Linked DNA regions of Homo sapiens: region 2 is linked to region 1. Evidence: fine-mapped QTL for protein levels in blood plasma. A gene starts in region 1. The other region holds a variant in brackets. All regions are shown on one strand. Distances are between the middles of the regions. Region 1 holds the start of CD177 (CD177 molecule). Region 2 has its middle 8.6 kb from the start of LINC03078.

The links. PIP is the chance, under the fine-mapping model, that this variant and not a neighbour inherited with it causes the effect. Protein levels are from antibody-based Olink assays in UK Biobank. Linkage for the fine-mapping came from a reference panel and not from the study's own genotypes, which makes the PIPs less certain.
Region 2: its variant is fine-mapped to the plasma level of the CD177 protein (UK Biobank, PIP above 0.99).

The regions. Positions count from the first base shown.
Region 1 is chr19:43,348,727-43,359,259 of GRCh38, reverse strand. It overlaps CD177 (CD177 molecule), which reads right to left and starts at 5,574. Exons shown (of 9, transcript NM_020406.4): 1 at 5,494-5,574; 2 at 5,267-5,407; 3 at 4,868-5,053; 4 at 3,477-3,599; 5 at 3,152-3,268. The coding sequence starts at 5,545. PRG1 (p53-responsive gene 1) reads right to left here and starts at 10,204. Exons shown (of 1, transcript NR_026881.1): 1 at 9,712-10,204.
Region 2 is chr19:43,317,635-43,328,167 of GRCh38, reverse strand. No RefSeq gene overlaps it. Among named protein-coding and RNA genes, the nearest start is that of LINC03078, 8.6 kb to the left of the region's middle. The variant G/A (reference allele first, on the strand shown) is at 6,117.

The DNA of each region.
Region 1 (10,533 bases):
GCGGCTCGTTTCTGCCAGTCTAGCTGAACACATTGGTGTTGTCCTTGACCACGCTCTTTCTCTCCCACATTGTGTTCCTCAAGTAATCCTACTGGCTTGAGCTGCAGAAAATCTTCAAAACCCAACCCCACGTCACCACCTCTGCTGCCTCCAAGCCCCCCGCTTCACTCCCACCTGACTCCTGGGGCAATCCCTGCACCCGCCTGTCACTGTTCCTCTCGCTCCATTCTCCACCCAGCAGGCAGAGGGAGGCTAGGTAAACCTAAGTCAGTTCATGTCACTCCTCTGCTCCGAAGACTCCAGGAGGTCCCCATTCTGGAGAATAAAATTCTAAGCCCTTCCAATGGCCCGGGAGGCCTGATAAGACGCGGCCGCCTCCCTGCTCCCTCCATCACTCTGCTCCGCACAGGTGTTTCTGGCAGGCACTCACCCACATCATGGTCTTTGCATCTGCTTCCGTCCCATGTCTGCAACCATCCCCTCCTCTTCCCCAAATCCAGGGAAAGAGGCTCCATGAGATATGGAGACTTTTGATCCTCGTGTGAAGCTGAGGCTGGAAAGCTGTTTCGGCGGCAGAGCTGGGCCTGGGACCCACGTGTCCCTGATTCAGACGTGGGCTCTTCCCTGCTCTCTCACTGGGACCGCTGCCCAGCTCCTCTAGGGGCAGCCAGGGCCTTATCTGCCCGGGCCCCTTGGTTCTTCACAAGGGGCTGCTGCCATGGCCCCTTTTAGTAACCTGCATCCTTGCACCCAGCCCTCCCACTGCTGCGGCTTCTTATAAGCGGTTCCATCACCCTGAAGCCTCTTCTCTCCTGCACTTGGTCCCCAACGTCTTGTTGTTCCCCCAGTTTCTGATGCCTGGTCTTGTGATGCTCACTGTCTGCTAAACTGCTGAACTGCACTTCACCAGGGAGGCAAAACAGCCTGCAAGATCTGGCTCCAGTGTTGAAAGCAGATGAATCTCTATGAACAGCACTGATTGGTGCATAGTCGCTGTGTTTTATGTGGTGCGTTTGTGTAGTGTGTGCACATGCGTGATGTGTGCAGGTATGTGTGCTGTGTGTGAGTGCGTAGTATACATGTGGGGGGTGTGGTTGTATGGGGTGTGTGGTGTGTTCATGGTATGTTTGTGTGGTGCGTGCATGTGTAGACATACTGTGTGTGATATATGTGGTATGTGTTTGTTTTGTGTGTTTGGTGTGGTGTGTGTTCTGTGTATCTGTGTTTTGCTTGCATGTGGTGTGTGTGGCATGCCAGATGTGTTGTGTGTATTGTGTGTTGTGTGTGGTATGTATTGCATGTCTGATATGTTGAGAGGGAGAGTGTGTGTGGTACCTGACGTGTAGTATGTGGCATACACACTACATGTACACGTAGTAATTGTGCACTCGTGTGATGCATTTGTGTGTGTTGTGCATATTGTGTGCTCTGTGTGTGATTTGTGTTCCATAGGTGGTATGTCAGGGGTATGGGGGAGTGTGTGTGTGGTATGTGATGTGTGGTGTGTATGTGTCATGGTGTGACGCATTCGTGTCTGCTGTGCTTATTGTGGGCTGTGTGTGTGGCATGTGTTGCGTCTGATTTGTTTCTGAAATACCTTCTGGGTTATCAGTGTCATCTGGTCCCAGAGACCAGGGCCAGATCCTTAACAGCAGCATCAGTCAAAAGGAAAGATAAATGGCTCAGACCCTGCCCTCCCTGCTCCACAATCTTCCATGGCTCCCCTGCCTTCAGGAGAGGGTCCACCCCTCAGCCTGGGTTTTCAGGTACTTGAGCGACCACCAGGTTCCCCACTTAACTCTTCCTCCCCCACCAGTATCCATTCTGAAGGCATGCCAGTTCATTTCCTCCTCAGCCTCACACCTGCTGTGCCTTTGGCTTGGAGCAGCTCCCTCTTCGACCCCACACCCACCTTGTCCACCTGGAAAACTTCGAATCACCCCCAATCCCAGCTGTACCCCCTCATCTTGATGAGTCCTTCTCAGGTGGAGTGAGGGACTCTTCTTGAAAACAGCAGGCTCACTCCCACCTCCAGGCCTATGCAGCTGCTACACACTGTTCCCTCTGCCACCAATGTCCTCTTCCTCTTCTACCAATAAGCTGTAGGTCATCTTTAACACACGGTTCACAGGCCACCTCCTCTGTAAAGCCCTCCTTGACTCTCTACCCCAACAACATCAGTATTTTCCTCCTCTGAGCTGCCCCAGGCCCCACATCCCCGTTTGCCACAGCCCTGATCACCTCAAGCTGTGACCATCTGTGTCTGTAGCACCTCCCCCTCCTAGTCCTGGAGGCCCTTCAGGTAGAAACAGGGTCTGACTCATGAGGGAGCTTTGCTCAAGTGAGCCCTGCATGTCCTCACTTGAGCAAACACCTCCTGGTACCCTTCCTGAGCCGTCTCCTGAGCTACCCAAGGCTGGAAACCCTGGTGCCAGTGGTACCAAGCCCCTAGCCTCAGGCTCCCAGCCTAGCTAGGGAGAAACAGCCAAATACACAGAGGAATGTGTGCAGAGCTCACACAACTCTCTCTTCTAAGCTCTAAGGGTTAGCGTGATGTGGGCAGACAAGGAAACTGAGGCAGGGGCAGGGAAGACTTTGCTTCTAGGAGGGAAGCTGGGATTCCTATAAGACCCCCACCTCCCCACCATGGCTTCCTGTTGCTTTGGAGCCCTTCTTATGGAGACATTCCCTGGCACTCTCTTCCATGGCAGCACCTAAATGGGTAAGTGGGGACCCTCTCAGTGTCCTCCTTTAACTCTTGCTTTCTCTGTCACACCCAAAGTCCCCTTGATTTTCTCTCTGATGTTCTCTCCTGTGCAGGCAAGGCTGCTGGGGCACTCCAGCACCATGAGCGGGGCGGGGGCTGATACGGGTGGGAGAGAGGCTACGGTGGCCTAGGGAAGTGGGAGACCTAGGGTTACCCAAGGCCAGGGGTGTGGAGACACAGAAATTGAAGCAACCAGTCACTCTCAGCAGCTTGAGAGCCAGCAGGGGCCCCAGCACTCACTGTTGCCTAAAGCCACATGCCAAGCAACCCACCCTGCACCCTTGACCTTCCTCCTGCTGGCTTTGGTGTGATGGCTCTGGATGCCCCATGTGTCATCGTGCCCCGAGGCTGCAGTCCAGGGCACAGCCTAGGGGCAGGACTCACCTTTCATATCGCAGTTCTCAGTCATACCCACGGGCCCAATTTCCTGTGTCCCATTGAGCAGGTTGCAAACTGGCTGGGGCATGCATCCCTGGACTCTCAGATTGGAGAAGATGCCTCCTGCAGAAAGGGGGAGCGAGGGAGAGTCAGTGATGCTGCCTCCAGGACCACCCAACCCTCAGAGGCAGGCATAGCTCCAGGAAGCCAGGCCCACCCTCCTCTGGGTCTCATGCCGTGCCTCAGCTCACCTCACTCCCCAAAGCCTAAGATCTCAGTCCCCAGACCTTCCAGTTCAGTCCCCACAGGGACCCCGATGTCCCAGGCTTACCTCCCCTGAGCCTGAGGAGGCCATCATAACAGTGTGTGGTCCCCTTGGGGCAGATCTCTTCTGTTGTCCCCTCCAGACAGCCTTCCATAGACAAGCAGACTGGGCACCTCAAGGATCCTGGGTCTAGGAAAGTGACAGACAGAGTGAGGGGGCACTGAGAGGGCACTGGATTTGATCAGATACCTTCTCTGCACCCCACTTTTGCTGGCCTCAAGAGTCAACCTGCTCAGCCTTCCCAAAGGGGCCTTCTGCAGCTCCCATCATGGGATCTGGATGTGGGAAAATAAAGAAGTGTAATCCATAAAAGAGGAAGGGAGAATGAACAGGAGGTCTGGGTAGAGGCACCCAGGGCTGGGTACAGAAAGTGGTCTTGGCTGGGTGTGGTGACTCACACCTGTAATCCCAGCACTTTGGGAGGCTGAGGCAGGTGGATCACGAGGTCAGGAGTTCAAGACCAGCCTGGGCAACATAGTGAAACCCTGTCTCTACTAAAAATACAAAAATTAGCCGGGCGTGGTGGCAGGCTCCTCTAGTCCCTGCTACGTGGGAGGCTGACGCAGGAGAATCGCTTGAACCCGGGAGTCGGAGGTTGCAGTGAGCCGAGATTGCGCCACTGCACTCCAGCCTGGTCGACACAGCGAGACGCTTTCTCAGAAAAAAAAAAAAAAAAAAAAAAAAAGAAAAGAAAAGGGGGGGTGTCTTGGGTGGCAAGTGGGGGTGGGGGGTGGGCAGGGTGGAGGAGGGGCCTGCTGAGGCCAAATGTAGACTCAGACATGGTCAAGTCTGAACCTTTCAACAAAGTCTGGCCTTCCGAGGGGAGACACAGAAGCAGACTCATTGGTCAAGGGAATGAGGGGGTGCCCTGGAACGAGCCAGTGCCTTCACCTGCAAGCGCTACTAAACCTCCAAGAACAGGAGACTTCTGTGTTCACAAGCTGTTCCAATAAAAGAAGCGCAAAATATCTCCCTAGACTCTTTATAACACCAGACAAGGAAAGTGGAAAGTTACAGTTCAGTCTCCCTTAGGAAGAGGAAATAGCAAAAACCCTGCAGGAGAACTTCTTGAACCAAACGCAACAGAATAAAAAAAGAATGCAGGATAACCCAGTTAATGGTGATTTCATATCAGAAATCCGTCCTGTTTGCTCTTAGAAGAGGAGGGGTGCGGGGATTCCCGGGTGGCAGGTCGGTGGGAGGGATCGGGAGTGAGTGGGGAGGGATGGAAAGGGAGCGGGGCGGGGCGATGGTCAGGGAGCAGTCAGGGGAGGGATGGAGCCAGCGAGGGTCGGGATAGCGAGCGAGGGTGGGAGGGACTCCGTAACAGCCCCTCTGTGCTCAGCGGATCCCCTTCTAGCAGCCCCTCCCTCTCCTCCCGACCCTCCCGCAGGCACCTGCTGGGGGCTGTGGGGCCCAAAGCGGGAGGGAGTTAACGAGGTTGTTGCAGAAGTCCTCCTGGCGGCACACGAAGGTGTAGGAGATCAGGGAGAGGCCGGGGCCCATCCGGTGCTCAGTGACGCGGGGCTCCTGGTCCTTGGCCTCCGTGCAGCCCTTGGAGAGCACCAGGCTCACTTGGGGTCCTGGACCGAAAGAGGGAGGCAAGCGAGGATGGAGGTCAGGCCTCCAGGGTCCTGGAGGGAGACGCTGCTACACGGCGTAGGCTGAGAGGCTGGAAAGGGGATCACCGGGACCCTAGGAGTCGATCCCCCGGAGGGGTGGCTCCCGGGTCCCTGCACAGGGATCAAGGGACTGAGGGGACAGGGCGGGGTCTCTGCACGCCAGGGCCTTCTCACCGCTCTCAATGAGCATCAACGTGTCCTGGCACCCCAAGCCGCTGTCGCAGCTGGTGTTCTTAGGGGTCCATTGCCGGGGCAGGTCGGACACCTTCCACACATGCTGAACTGTCCCAAACTGGCAGAGCAGCGCCTGCACTCCTGGAGTGGCAAGAGCAAATCCATCTCAGCAGGGTTCCCTTGCCCGGCCTCCAGGGAATCTCCTCCAGGCTGGGCTCATCACTCACCTGGCAGTGGGAGGATGAACCCCAGGAGGGCCAGCAGTAATACCGCGCTCATGACCCGTCTGTGGCTGGTAATCTCTTTCTGCTTTTTCAGCAGGAAACAAGTCCTTTATACCAGCCCTTAAGCAGCCAGCCCAGAAAAGGGTGGGGAGGGGAGGGCCTTGCAAAATGGAGGCTTGGGCCCCACCCCAAGTCTCAATGGCCGCAGTGGCCTATCAGGGACCCCCTTTCTTCCTCAGACCTTCGGGTCCAGGCATCCAGCCCCTCCTCCCTCAGATGGAGGGTCCAGGACCCCCAGCCCCTCAGCCCCTCCTCCTTCAGACCCAGGAGTCCAGACCCCCAGCCCCTCCGCCCTCAGACCCAGGAGTCCAGGCCCCCAGTCCCTCCTCCCTCAGACCCAGGAGTCCAGGCCCCCAGTGCCTCCTCCCTCAGACCCAGGAGTCCAGCCCCCCAGCCCCTCCTCCCTCAGACCCAGGAGTCCAGGCCCCAGGCCTCCCTCTCTCAGACCCAGGAGTCCAGGCCCCGAGGCCCTCCTCCCTCCGACCCAGGAGTCCAGACCCCCAGGCCCTCCTCCCTCAGACCCAGGAGTCCAGGCCCCCAGGCCCTCCATAGTTAGAAACTGTGGCATCTTGACCCGAGGTTCCCCCGGTCCAGACTCCCAGCCCTCTTTCCTCCTGAGCCCAGCTATGTGGATCACCACCCCCACCCTCTTTCTCCAGTAGTTTGGGAAGGCAGTTTCCTCATTTCTCATGGGCTCCCTGGCCACCTCTGTACCCCAGATGGGGAAATGGCCCAACTACCTGTGAGGACGTTGTGCAGTGGGCATCAGCTTGTCCCCATGTCTTCCGGTCCTAGTTTCTACCCTCCACTGTCTTCCCACTTCTCTGTTCTTTCTCTTTCCTTCTTATATTGCTTTCTTTTGATTCTTCTTTTCATGCTTTTCTCTCATGCTTTCTCTTCTATTCTCTACCCTCACAGTACAACATAGGACTCAAGTCCCCAGTTTCCTACCACCAGGAAAGGCTTGGCCAGAGGTGGAGTAGAGACTGAATATCTATGAAAGAATTAGGATATATCTGAAAAATGCAACATTTATTTGCTGGAAGCCGATGGGAGAGCAGTGTTGTGCTGAAAAACCAAGTTTTCTGAAAAACAATACCCACAAATCCTGCCTCGTAGTGTTGGCCTATTTCTCTGGTGTAAATACTCATAGCATGTCTGATTTTAAGCTACCTACAGTTTGCCAACCAGGCTGATGAAATCCCTAGCTATTTAACCATGGGCTTGTCCAGGGCTGTACAAATCAGCTGTAACACACTGGGGTGGCGGGGAGGAAGACAGGAAGGAACCTGGGGTATCTGTCAGTGACTGCAGAGGGACGTTGTGGGTGTCTGTGACGGAGAGAGGAGAAGCAGAAGAGGGAAGGCGAGAGCAGGAATAGCAGAGAAAGAGAAATGAATGTGACTTGCAATTATATGTTTATTTTTGACATCTCTATAAATTTTATCTTTATTTGTCTTTGCAAGTTTATTGCAAGTTTAATATTTGCCACACAGACAGGGAAGTGTTTGTCTGATCTCCTGCTATGTCTCCACCACCTACATGGCATACAGTACATGCCCAGTAATTTTTTTTTTTTTTTAGAAACAGAGTCTTGCTCTCACCTATGCTGGAGTACAGTGGTGCAGTTGTAGCTCACTGCAGGTCACTACAGCCTCCATCTCCTGGACTCAAGCAACTCTCCCACCTCAGCCTCCCGAGTAACTGGGACTACAGGTGCACACCACCATGTCTGGTTAATTTTTGTATTTTCAATAGAGACAGGGTTTCACTATGTTGTTCAGGCTGGTCTCAAACTCCTGACCTGCGGTGTTTTCATTTTGAAAAATTTCAGGCTGGGAGCGGTGACTCATACCAGTCATCCTAGCACTTTGGGAAGCCAAGGCGGGTGGATCTATTGAAGTCAGGAGATTGAAACCAACCTGGACAACACGGTGAAACCCCATCTCTACTTAAAAAAAAAATACAAAAATTAGCCCGGTGTAGTGGCAGCCACCTGTAGTCCCAGCTACTCCGGAGACTGAGACAGGAGAATCGCTTGAACCCAAGAGGCAGAGGTTGCAGTGAGCCGAGATCGCACCACTGCACTCCAGCCTGGGCAACAGAGTAAGACTCCATCTCAAAAAAAAAGACGGAAAAATTTCAAACCGGCAGAAAAGTTGCAAGGATAGTACAGTGAACACAAGTATCCCCTTCACTGGATTCACCCACTCTTCACATTTTATTGTATCTGTTTATACACACACAACATATGCTTTTAAAATATTCTTAAATTTTAAAAACAAGGAGTAGACATTGTAACTCTCACCACTAAGTGCTTCAGCAAGAACCTTCTTAAGATTATTCTTAAGGGGGCTGGGCACAGTGACTCACACCTGTAATCCCAGCACTTTGGAAGGATCACTTTAAGTCAGGAGTTCAAGACCAGCCTGGCCAACATGGTGAAACCCCATCTCTACTAAAAATATAAAAATTAGCTGGACATGGTGACACACAACTGTAATCCCAGCTACTTGGGAGGCTGAGGCAGGAGAATCACTTGAAGCTGGTGGTGGAGGTTGCAGCAGTGAGCCGAGATCACACCACTGCACTCCAGCCTGGGTGACAGAGCCAGGCTCCATCACAAAAAATAAATAAATAAAAAAATTTTTAAAAAGCATATATCATTCTTTTTTTTCCTCTCTCTCTCTTTTTTTTTAGATGCAGTTTTGCTCTCTCACCCAAGCTGGAGTGAAGTGTCGTGATCTCTGCTCACTGCAACCTCCGCCCTCCAGGTTCAAGCAATTCTCCTGTCCCAGCCTCCCGAGTAGCTGGGATTACAGGCGCCTGCCACCACGTCCGGCTAATTTTTGTATTTATAGTAGAGACAGGGTTTCACCATGTTGACCAGGCTGGTCCTGAGCTCTTGACCTCAGGTGATCCACCTGCCTCGGCCTCCCAAAGTGCTAGGATTACAGGTGTGAGCCACCACGCCCAGCCTATATAGATTATTCTTAAGGACTTTGTCCTGCGTAACCACAGACCAGGATCAGACCCGTGTAGTTTACACAGATGCACTGTTGTCTAATAGGAAGCCCATTTCCAGTTTTCCTCTGTTGTCCCAATGACATCTCTCATTGCGTTTTTGCTTTCTGATCAGGAGAACATCCGGGGTCAAGCATGAACTGCACTGCGTTGTCTTTATGAAAGAGAAACAAAAACTCAGGACCCCAATTCACTGTGACAGAAGGAAAAAAAAAAAACTGGAAGCTGAGTCATGCAAGAAACTGCCTTTCCTTTTGTTCCTAAGCAGACAGCTACAGAGAAAAGGTTAAGTATCTCCGTAGGTAGCTACTCTATGTTCATCTTATCTTTCTTTAAAAAAATTTTTACTTATTTATTTTTTTTTGAGAGAGTATCATACTTTGTCTCCCAAGCTGGGGCGCAGTGGCACGATCTTGGCTCACTGCGACCTCTGTCTCCCGGGCTCAAGTCATTCTGTCACCTCAGCCTCCCGTGTAGCTGGGACTACAGGCACCCACCACCGCGCCCAGCTAATTTTTGTGGTTTTTTTTGTAGAGATGGGTTTTGCCATGTTGTCCATGCTGGTCTCAAGTTCCTGGGCTCATGAGATCCTCCCACCTCAGCCTTTCAAAGTGCTGGGATTACAGGTGTGAGCCACCACGCCCGGCCATATTCACCTTATCTTTCTCAAGGTGCCAATTTACTGAGCGTGAGATGAATACGTGATTGATTATTCCCCTACCTCCTGCTTTCTCTTACACCATGTGGATTCAGTAATGCGACCACACCCTCCTTCTTTCACCGCCAGCCAGCTTTTCCACCCTAAATATTGAAGTCCTCAAAATTATCTTTGGAAAAAGGCACAGACCACAGACTGTTTCTATGATTGCATGGTTTTTTCTATGTCCTTAACCTTGGCAAAATAAGCTTCTAAGTTGATGGAGACCTGTCTCAGATACCTTTTGGTTTACATCTCATCTCTGGACTCCCCTTTAATCTAGGAGTGCTCCCCACCTGCCTTTCATTTTCTTTAATGTCATTGAAAGCAATGGTTCACTTCTTTTTTTTTTGTAAAGTCTTCCACCACCTGGATGTGTCTGACTCAGACTATGATTAGAGTAGTTTTAATGATTTTTGGCAATATTCTTCTAGCTGGGTGTCGTGTGTCACATTCAGAAGGCCTTTAATGCCTGTTTGTCAAATTCTTGGCTAATTAACAACTGCTGTGTGAGGTAAGCCATGGAGGAGGCTGTGTGAATGTCCTATTCCCCACCACGAGACCCTTCTGTCTCCTTGCACACATTGTGCCCAAGCTACTTCCAGAAAATCCTCTGTGATCACGGCAAATCACATGATGCTTTTGGTCCAGCTCCCCTGCTGCCCTCCTATCCACTCTTCTGCCCATTACAGGAAGCCTTTACACCCAGGCAGCTCAGCGTCCAGAGCTGGTTCCACTCATCCCCTTCAAGGAGAGGAAAACTGAGCCCTGGGAAGGAGAAGTAAAGCTGGAGTCACAAAGCCAGGAAATGGTGGCCAGGGGCACGACCCAGGCCTTATAAACAACCTGCACTCTTCCCCCTGCAACACAGCCTGCTGAGGACGCTCATCAGTCATCTCAGTGGTTCACTTCCAATCTCTTCATCTGCCAAGCACCCAGCATGTTCCAGCAAAGACAAATTATTCCTATGGCAAACTGACCTGCATGCAGTTTACAGGACTTTATGTTATAAAGAGGAGGGATCTATGGCACTTAATGAAAAGTTACACTTAAAGATTTTCATAGGCCTGGCTGGGTGTGGTGTCTCATGCCTGTAATCCCAGCACTTTGGGAGGCAGAGGTGGGTGGATCACCTGAGGTCAGGAGTTCGAGACCAGCCTGGCCAACATGGTGAAACCCTGTCTCTACTAAAAATACAAAAATTAGCTGGGCATGATGGCATGTGCCTGTAATCCCAGCTACTTGGCTGGGGCAGGAGAATG
Region 2 (10,533 bases), 31 kb after region 1:
CCAACCTCTTATCTCTGTGCCCCAATTGCTTATTTCCGCGCCCCAACCTGTTATCTCTGTGCCCCAATCCCTTACTTCCATGCCCCAACCTCTTATGTCTGCACCCCAATCCCTTATTTCCATGCTCCGACCCTTTCTCTGCTTTTCTGGTGGGCAAGAAACCCCCACCCCTTCTCCATGTCTCTACTCTTTTCTCTGGGCTTGCCTCCTTCACTATGGGCAAGCTTCCACCTTCCATTCCTCCTTCTTCTTCCTTAGCCTGTATTCTTAAGAACTTAAAACCTCTTCAATTCTCACCTGACCTAAAATCTAAGCATCTCATTTTCTTCTGCAATGCCGCTTGACCCCAATACAAACTGGACAGTAGTTCCAAATAGCCAGAAAACGGCACTTTCAATTTTTCCATCCTATAAGATCTAAATAATTCTTGTCGTAAAATGGGCAAATGGTCTGAGGTGCCTGACGTCCAGGCATTCTTTTACACATCAGTCCCTTCCTAGTCTCTGTGCCCAGTGCAACTCGTCCCAAATCTCCCGCCTGTCCCCTCAGTCCCAACCCCAAGCGTCGCTGAGTCTTTCTAATCTTCCTTTTCTACAGACCCATCTGACCTCTCCCCTCCTTGCCAGGCCAAGCTAGGTCCCAATTCTTCCTCAGCCTCCGCTCCTCCACCCTGTAATCTTTTTATTGCCTCCCCTCCTCACACCTGGTCCGGCTTACAGTTTCGTTCCGTGACTAGCCCTTCCCCACCTGCCTAGCAATTTACTCTTAAAAAGGTGGCTGGAGCTAAAGGCATAGTCAAGGTTAATGCTCCTTTTTCTTTATCCCAAATCAGATAGCGTTTAGGCTCTTTTTCATCAAGTATAAAAATCCAGCCCAGTTCATGGCTCGTTTGACAGCAACCCTGAGACGCTTTATAGCCCTAGACCCTAAAAGGTCAAAAGGCCATCTTATTCTCAATATACATTTTATTACCCAATCTGCTCCCGACATTAAATAAAACTCCAGAAATTGGAATCTGGCCCTCAAACCCCACAACAGGACTTAATTAACCTCACCTTCAAGGTGTGCAATAACAGAAAAAAGTTGCAATTCCTTGCCTCCACTGTGAGACAAACCCCAGCCACATCTCCAGCACACAAGAACTTCCAAACGCCTGAACCATAGCAACCAGGCGTTCCTCCAGAACCTCCTCCCCCAGGCGCTTGCTACACGTGCCGGAAATCTGGCCACTGGGCCAAGGAATGCCCGCAGCCTGGGATTCCTCCTAAGCCGCGTCCCATCTGTGTGGGACCCCACTGAAAATCGGACTGTTCAACTCACCTGGCAGCCACTCCCAGAGCCCAAGGAACTCTGGGCCCAAGGCTCTCTGACTGACTCCTTCTTGGCTTACCGGCTGAAGACTGACGCTGCCTGATCACCTCAGAAGCCCCGTAGACCATCACGGACGCCGAGCTTTAGGTAACTCTCACGGTGGAGGGTAAGTCCATCCCCTTCTTAATCAATACGGAGGCTACCCACTCCACATTACCTTCTTTTCAAGGGCCTGTTTCCCTTGCCTCCATAACTGTTGTGGGTATTGACAGCCAGGCTTCTAAACCTCTTAAAACTCCCCAACTCTGGCGCCAACTTAGACACTACTCTTTTAAGCACTCCTTTTTAGTTATCCCCACCTGCCCAGTTCCCTTATTAGGCTGAGGCACTTTAAGTAAATTATCTGCTTCCCTGACTATTCCTGGACTACAGCTATATCTCATTGCCGCCCTTCTTCCCAATCCAAAGCCTCCTTTGCGTCCTCCTCTTGTATCCCCCCACCTTAACCCACAAGTATAAGACACCTCTACTCCCTCCTTGGCGACTGATCATGCACCCCTTACCATCTCATTAAAACCTAATCACCCTTACCCCACTCAACGCCAATATCCCATCCCACAGCACGCTTTAAAAGGATTAAAGCCTGTTATCACTCGCCTGCTACAGCATGGCCTTTTAAAGCCTATAAACTCTCCTTACAATTCCCCCATTTTACCTGTCCTAAAACCAGACAAGACTTACAAGTTAGTTCAGGATCTGTGCCTTATCAACCAAATTGTTTTGCCTATCCCCCTTGTGGTGCCCAACCCGAACACTCTTTTGTCCTCAATACCTTCCTCCACAACTCACTATTCCGTGCTTGATCGTAAAGATGCTTTTTTCACTGTTCCCCTGCACCCCTCGTCCCCGCCTCTCTTTGCTTTCACTTAGACTGACCCTGACACCCATCAGGCTCAGCAAATTACCTGGGCTGTCCTGCCGCAAGGCTTCACAGACAGCCCCCATTACCTCAGTCAAGCCCAAATTTCATCCTCATCTGTTACCTATCTCGGTATAATTCTCACAAAAACACACGTGCTTTCCCTGCTGATCATGTCTGATTAATCTCCCAAACCTCAATCCCTTACAAAACAACAACTCCTTTCCTTCCTAGGCATGGTTAGTGTGGTCAGAATTCTTACACAAGAGCCAGGACCGCACCCTGTAGCCTTTCTGTCCAAACAACTTGACCTTACTGTTTTAGCCTAGCCCTCATGTCTGTGTGCAGCGGCTGCCGCTGCTTTAATACTTTTAGAGGCCCTGAAAATCACAAACTATGCTCAACTCACTCTCTACATTTCTCAACTTCCAAAATCTATTTTCTTCCTCATACCTGACGCATACACTTTCTGCTCCCCGGCTCCTTCAGCTGTACTCACTCTTTGTTAAGTCCCACAATTACCACTGTTCCTGGCCCGGACTTCAATCTGGCCTCCCACATTATTCCTGATACCACACCTGACCCCCATGACTGTATCTCTCTGATCCACCTGCTATTCACCCCATTTCCCTGTATTTCCTTCTTTCCTATTCCTCACCCTGATCACGCTTGATTTATTGATGGCAGTTCCACCAGGCCTAATCGCCACATACCAGCAAATGCAGGCTATGCTATAGTACAAGCCACTAGCCTGCCTCTCAGAACCTCTCATTTCCTTTCCATCGTGGAAATCTATCCTCAAGAAAATAACTTCTCAGTGTTCCATCTGCTATTCTACTACTCCTCAGGGATTATTCAGGCCCCCTCCCTTCCCTACACATCAAGCTCGAGAATTTGCCCCCACCCAGGACTGGCAAATTAGCTTTACTCAACATGCCCGAGTCAGGAAACTAAAATACCTCTTAGTCTAAATAGACACTTTCACTGAATAAGTAAAGGCCTTTCCTACAGGGTCTGAGAAGGCCACCACAGTCATTTCTTCCCTTCTGTCAGACATAATTCCTCAGTTTAGCCTTCCCACCTCTATACAGTCTGATAGCAGACCAGCCTTTATTAGTCAAATCAGCCAATTAGTTTTTCAGGCTCTTAGTATTCAGTGAAACCTTTATATCCCTTACGGTCCTCCGTCTTCAAGAAAAGTAGAACGGACTAAAGGTCTTTTAAAAACACACCTCACCAAGCTCAGCCACCAACTTAAAAAGGACTGGACAATACTTTTACCACTTTCACTTCTCAGAATTCAGGCCTGTCCTCAGAATGCTACAAGGTACAGCCCATTTAAGCTCCTGTATAGATGCTCCTTTTTATTAGGCCCCAGTCTCATTCCAGACACTGGACCAACTTAGACTGTGCCCCCAAGAAAACTTGTCATCCCTACTATTTTCTGTCTAGTCATATTCCTATTCTCCATTCTCAACTACTCACACATGCCCTGCTCTTGTTCACACTGCCAGTTTACACTGTTTCTCCAAGCCATCACAGCTGATATCTCCTCGTGCTATCCCCAAACTGCCACTCTTAACTCTTGAAGTAAATAAATAATCTTTGCTGGCAGGACTATGCTGAATCTCCTTAGGCACTCTCTAATCAGATGTCCTAGGTCCTCCCAATTCTTAGACCTTTTATACCTGTTTTTCTCCTTCTTATTCCATTTAGTTTTTCAATTCACACAAAACTGTATCCAGGCCATCACCAATCATACTATATGACAAATGTTTCTTCTAACAACCCCACAATATCACCCCTTACCACAAGATCTCCTTTCAGCTTAATCTCTCCCACTCTAGGTTCCCACCCGCCCCTAATCCCGCTTGAAGCAGCCCTGAGAAACATCGCCCATTCTCTCTCCATACCACCCCCCAAAAATTTTCGCCACCCCAACACTTCAACACTATTTTGTTTTATTTTTCTTATTAATATAAGAAGGCAGGAATGTCAGTCCTCTGAGCCCAAGCCAAGCCATCGCATCCCCTGTGACTTGCACGTATACGCCCAGATGGCCTGAAGTTACTGAAGAATCACAAAAGAAGTGAAAAGGCCCTGCCCCGCCTTAACTGATGACATTCCACCATTGTGATTTGTTCCTGCCCCACCTTAACTGAGTGATTAACCCTGTGAATTTCCTTCTCCTGGCTCAGAAGCTCCCCCACTGAGCACCTTGTGACCCCCGCCCCTGCCCACCAGAGAACAACCCCCTTTGACTGTAATTTTCCATTACCTTCCCAAATCCTATAAAATGGCCCCATCCCTATCTCCCTTTGCTGACTCTCTTTTCGGACTCAGCCCACCTGCACCCAGGTGAAATAAACAACCATGTTGCTCACACAAAGCCTGTTTGGTGGTCTCTTCACACGGACACGTATGAAAAGAAAGACATGAGATTTGAGAGAAACCAGGGAAAGAATGATATGTTTTGGATTTATATTCCCACTCAAATCTCATGTCAAGTTGTAATCTCCAAAGTTGTAGGTGGAGCCTGGTTGAAGGTGATTGGATTATGGGGATGGTTTCTCATGGTTTAACACCATTCCTCTTGGTGCTTTCCTAGTGACAGTGAGTTCTCAGGTGATCTGGTTAAGAGTGTGTAACCCTTGCTGTCTTCCTCCTGCTCTCACCTGTGAGATGCCTTGTTCTGCCTTGGCCTTCCACAATGATTGTAAGTTTCCCGAGGCCTCCTCAAAAGCTGAGCAAATGTGAGAGTCATGCCAAACCATGAGCCAATTCAACCTCTTTTCTTTATAAATTACCCAGTCTCAGGTATTTCTCAGTAGCAATGTGAGAACAAACAAATACAGCATTATTTTCAGGAGAGAAAAAACAGGAAGTAAGCAATTCTAACTAGTTACCAGGTGTAAAGCCCAAGATAAACAGCAAAGCTATGAAGATTATACCTGGAGAATCTAATCTCTTCCAGCATGGCCAAAAGGCACAGCTGTGGGATGGGATGAGTTTTGTCCCCAGTTCTTGCTATGGTCGCTCATCTAGAACTCAGAATCTAAAGGCTCAAATCTAAAGATATAAGGTCACAGAAAAATTAAGAAAATGTATATATACAGAAGCAACCATATGATGACCCTAAAACATCTAGTAAATACAATATAAAAATGTCTGCCAACAGACCCAGGCACAAATGTCTAAATTAAATCTGAAGACATTTCTACTTCATTTTACCAATAATTTTTAAACTATCTTTATTTACCAAAGATTACTAAAATCACATGTATTGAAAAGCATTTGGGATTATTTACTTAATTTATGAGTACTTATTTTTACATTAATTTGATACCATGTATGTAAACAACATATAATCATATGTATGGACATAGACATATATGTGATACAGCATATAACATACACATGTGCACATAAAGATAGAGGGAGGCAGAAAGAGTTTAGAGTTTTGATTTCAGCATAGGACCGATCAAATTCAGTATTTAAAAAAGACAGTTGGATTAAATTTGTGCCTTTGTAAATGGAAGAGGTTAACATTTAATTAAGCCAGACTTTATTGAGTTTTAGAGAAAATTGGTAGCAAATTTACATCTCAAAGCACAGAGAGAAAGAGAACTAAAGCTTTTACAAGAAGGAATTTGTGTGTGTTCAAGGAAGATTAAAAATAGATGCCAAGGTAACACAAAAATGACAGAAATTTACCATAGGATTTTATAAGGAGACCAATTTTATTTAGATAGGCAGCTTTTAATTTGGTCTCTGTTTTCCAACTGGACCACTGAGCTCAGGACAGAGCCCATTAAGGAAGAGGACCAACGAAGTCTTGCAACTTTTAGATCCTAATAATTTAAATACATAAAAAGAAGACCCAGTT[G/A]CAAGGGACAGCATCCAGACCTTTATAAATCAAGGATTTCACTGAATCCCAGGTCCCTGAGAAGAGGAAAATGCCAATGGAACCATACTATGCAACACTTCCACAGTGTACTTTGCTATAAGGGCATTTTTCTAATTATTTAAACTGTGTATTTCTTATCTAAACTTGCAAAGAAATGAGTAGCATTCTGAAGTAATAATCATTTATTGCGAGCGCTGTTAGTCACCTCCAAAACCAAAGCTCTTACCAGTGACCCAGCAGCCATCACACATATAAGGTCAAGCATTTTTACAGTGCAAAGTAATCTCTGATGCCCCCAAAAGCCAAAGAGGTCAGGGAAAATGGAAAAGAGAGCAGAGTTTTAGACCTGAGAGGAATCCATTTACTTACAACTCTTGGGGTTCCATGAGGAAAAACAGTGGTTTCTCCTAAATAGGGAAGTCTGTGGCATCTTTTCTGTTTTCCTTAAGGGGTTCCAGGCTGTCAGAAATTCTTTAGGTTCCCTCATGTGGCATCAAGAATAGCAAGAGGAAGGATGGAAAGAGAAATAAGCAGAAAAAGAATTTTTAAGAAAAAAACCAGACAGACTAAGCACATGATTTAAAAAGATTTCAGTCAACTGAAAAAAAATCTTTCAAAGATACAAAAGAGATGGCCAGAGGCAGTGGCTCACATCTGTAATGGCAGCACTTTGGGAGACTGAGGCGGGCAGATTACTCAAGGCCAGGAGTTCAAGACCAGCAACATGGCGAAACCCAGTCTCTAGTAAAAATACAAAAATCAGTCAGGTGTGGTGGCACGTGCCTGTAATCTCAGCTGCTCAAGAGGCTGAGGCCCAAGAATCCCTTGAACCCAGGAGGTGGAGGTTGCAGCGAGCTGAGATTGTGCCACTGCACTTAAGCCTGGGTGACAGAGTGACAGCCTGTCTCAAAAAAAAAAAAAGATACAAAAGAGAAAAGCAGAAAAGCCTTCAATATACATTCAAGTCCTTTCTCAATATATATCCAATATGAATTTATATATTCTGTGTATATACATATTCTATATATATATAATATTTTATATATATATTATTTTAATATATACATGGCTTAATATTATAAATATTAATAATTATATGGCTTAAATACCATTAATAAATATATGGCTTAAATACCAGTTTTTAATTAAGCTGACTCTTAATCACAGAGCTGTTTTGGGAAATCCTTCTCTTAGCTGCCAAACATAGCTGAGAAATGACACCAAAGCATGTTAGCAGCAGTGAATCTGTAGACGTCTTCAGCAACCTCAATTCTTGCCTCTTTAGAAGAAGTAATTTGACTAAGAGGCATAAGGCAGAAGAAGGGACTGAGGTAAGTGTTAGAGCAGGAGTAAAAGTTTATTTAAAAGCTTTAAGGCAGGAATTAAAGGAAGTAAAGTACAATTAAAAGAGAGTCAAGCAGGCTGGATACAGTGACTCACACTTGTAATCCTAGCACTTTGGGAGGCCGAGATGGGTAGATCACCTGAGGTCAGGAGTTTGAGACCAACCTGGCCAACATGGTGAAATTTCGTCTCTACCAAAAATACAAAAATTAGCTGGGTGTGGTAGCATGTGCCTGTAGTCCCAGCTACTAGGGAGGCTGAGGCGGGAGGATCATTTGAACCTGGGAGGCGAAGGTTGCAGTGATCTGAGATCATGCCACTGCACTCTAGCCTGGGTGACAGAGCAAGACTCTGTTGCAAAAAAATAAATAAATAAAAATAAAAAAATAAAAAAGCCAAGCAGGCAACAAGAGATCAAGTGCATTGCTTGACCTCTGACTTAGGCTTTTGTATGTTGGCATAATTCTGGGGTCTGCATCTCCTCTCCCCTTATTTTCCCTTTGGAGTGGGCTGTCTGCATGTGCAGTGGCCTGCTAGCACTTGGGGTGGGGTGAACATGCGCAGTGTATTTACTGGAGTTGTATGCATGCTCACTTGAGGTGTTCTTCTCTTTCCAGTCAAATGTCCCTGGGAGGTCACAAACCAGTTAAACTCCACCATTTTGCCTCTTAATGCACATGTTTTAGCCCACTCACCCAACTTCTGAGAACTTATCAGGAAGGAGCTGATCAACTGTTTCAGGTGTTTCCTGTCTATTGGGAGACTGCCTTTCCCTGGTGCTAGCTACAACCCATTATTATTTTAGAGAGACAGTTAACGACCACCTGACAATCACCTGATGGTCATGACATTCCTGGTGTGTGGGGGAAGGAGGCTCCCTCCTGTCCTGCTGATGTCTGACTAGCTACCCACTGTAATACTTTCAGATTTTTTATTATCAGATTTTAGCTAGGACAAACAGCTGATATTTCTGGCTTTTGAATTTTTTTTTAACCAAAAGTATCCTCCCAGCTGAAACTGATAAGCACTAACCATAATTGTGACTTAGCCAAGGATGCATGAGACATCTCCAAAGATGTAAATGAGTACCACAAAAACTCAAAAATCACACAAATATCAAAACAAAAGTGGCAGAGGCATTTGAAGTAGAGTGACTCCATCTTGAGTGAGGGCTGGGAAAATGAGGCTGGGACTTGTTGGGCTGCATTTCCAGAAAGTGAGGCATTCCTAGCCTCTAGATGTTTATGGTTAAGGGAACAAATCAATAATATTTACTAAACAGACCCAGACTTGGGAGTGTCCAGATATCCCAATATCTGGAAAACAAAGTGATTCCTAATTTTGCTTTAAAGATAATAACTTAGATTCTTGCAAAATATCACAATTAAGAAAATTAATCCTTATCACAAACCTTTGTAGCAGGGTACATCTCCCCATATATATGAGCACTGTACCTAGGGTGGGTGTGTGCCTCCTCTTACTTTCAAGAACATCCTACTGTGACTATGGAGTAGCTGTACTTTCACTACTTTACTTTCTTAATAAACTTGCTTTTACTTTGCGCTGCAGACTTGCCCTGAATTCTTTCTCGTGCAAGATCCAAGAATCCTCTCTTTGGGCATGGATTGGGACCTTTTTCCTGTAACAAAAGCGGTTCATTCTCTGACTTGTAATTGAATCCAGGCTGCAACAGTGAAAGTGTGGAATTTTAACTACTGGATGACATGGTGAAGTGGCTTTAATCCTTATTGCCTCAGGAGATCTAAAGCAAGTCATTTGAGATTACAAAAAACTTAACTTTGTTTAAGGCTAGATTTTTGCTCTGTAAGTTAGTCAAGAGAATATTTAAGGCTAGCCGTGACACTATTATGTGTCTTTCTTTAAAATTTGATTCTCCTCAAACTATCTTGGCAAAATTATGACTGAGACAGTGAAAGAGATCTAACCTAACCTAATGAACACCGTCTTGCTTCTAACCTCCAAGCTGTCCTTGTTCGGTCCTGGGCATAGGCTGAACTAACTTTAATAGGAATTTAGTTTACAGTTTAAAACAAAGACGATAACAGCCCTTTCCCAAAACGAACCTCCTTCTTGCCTGGGGACAAGACTGCCTTTGTGGGACTAACAAATTAGCCACAAGATTAGAAATTACGGTTTAAGAGTCATGCAGCTGGAGGCTACAAGATTCTGACCCTCTCTAAACTGCTCCTGAGATCTGTCTGAGCTATTTGGCAGACCCTGCACTTGATGGATGGATGAGCTGGCCCCACCCAGATCGATAAAATGGGTCATTTGATCTTGTGACCTCTACTCAGGAACTGACTCAGCAAAAAAGGACAGCTTCAACTTCCCATGATTTCATCTCCTACCTAACCAATCAGCACTCATGCTACATCAGCTGACATTAAAATTACTTAGATATACAATTTGAATGAACGTCATGGTCTAAGTCAAATTACCTATGATAACCCATCAGTTATCAGTGCTATGCACATAATTTGAAGAAAAACTATGATTCAAGAGGATATGAGTCTAATATTAATTAAGCATGGACTCATGGAGAACCAGGATGGCCACCTTGTCCTTCCTAAGTCCTTAAAGCTTTTATTATTAAAAGTTCTGCATTCCATGACTCATCATGGAAAAGATAAAAATATTCAAATGGAATATATTGGTGTGGTGACTTATAAATTGTTAAAAGAATTTATAACCAATGTTTGGCCCCATATTCCTGGGAAAACAATCAAAGCTTCAGGTACACTTGGTCACCTGCTGGTCCATTTAAACATTTTATAATGAGATTTCATTCAATTGTTATTTTCAATGCATATTTTCTGGTTCTGGTTGTATAAAAGCTCTCCCATGCAAGAGGGCTCATGTTATCTACTAAGTTATTATGTTACAGTGTATTTTCACCAGATAAAGAAAACTTTCTATAGTTCACTAAAGATAATCAACGCATTCACAACCTAGAATCCAGAAGTAGAATTGCTGGATCAAGTAGTAATTCTTTAATTTATTGAGAAACTGCCATACCACTTTCCACAGCATC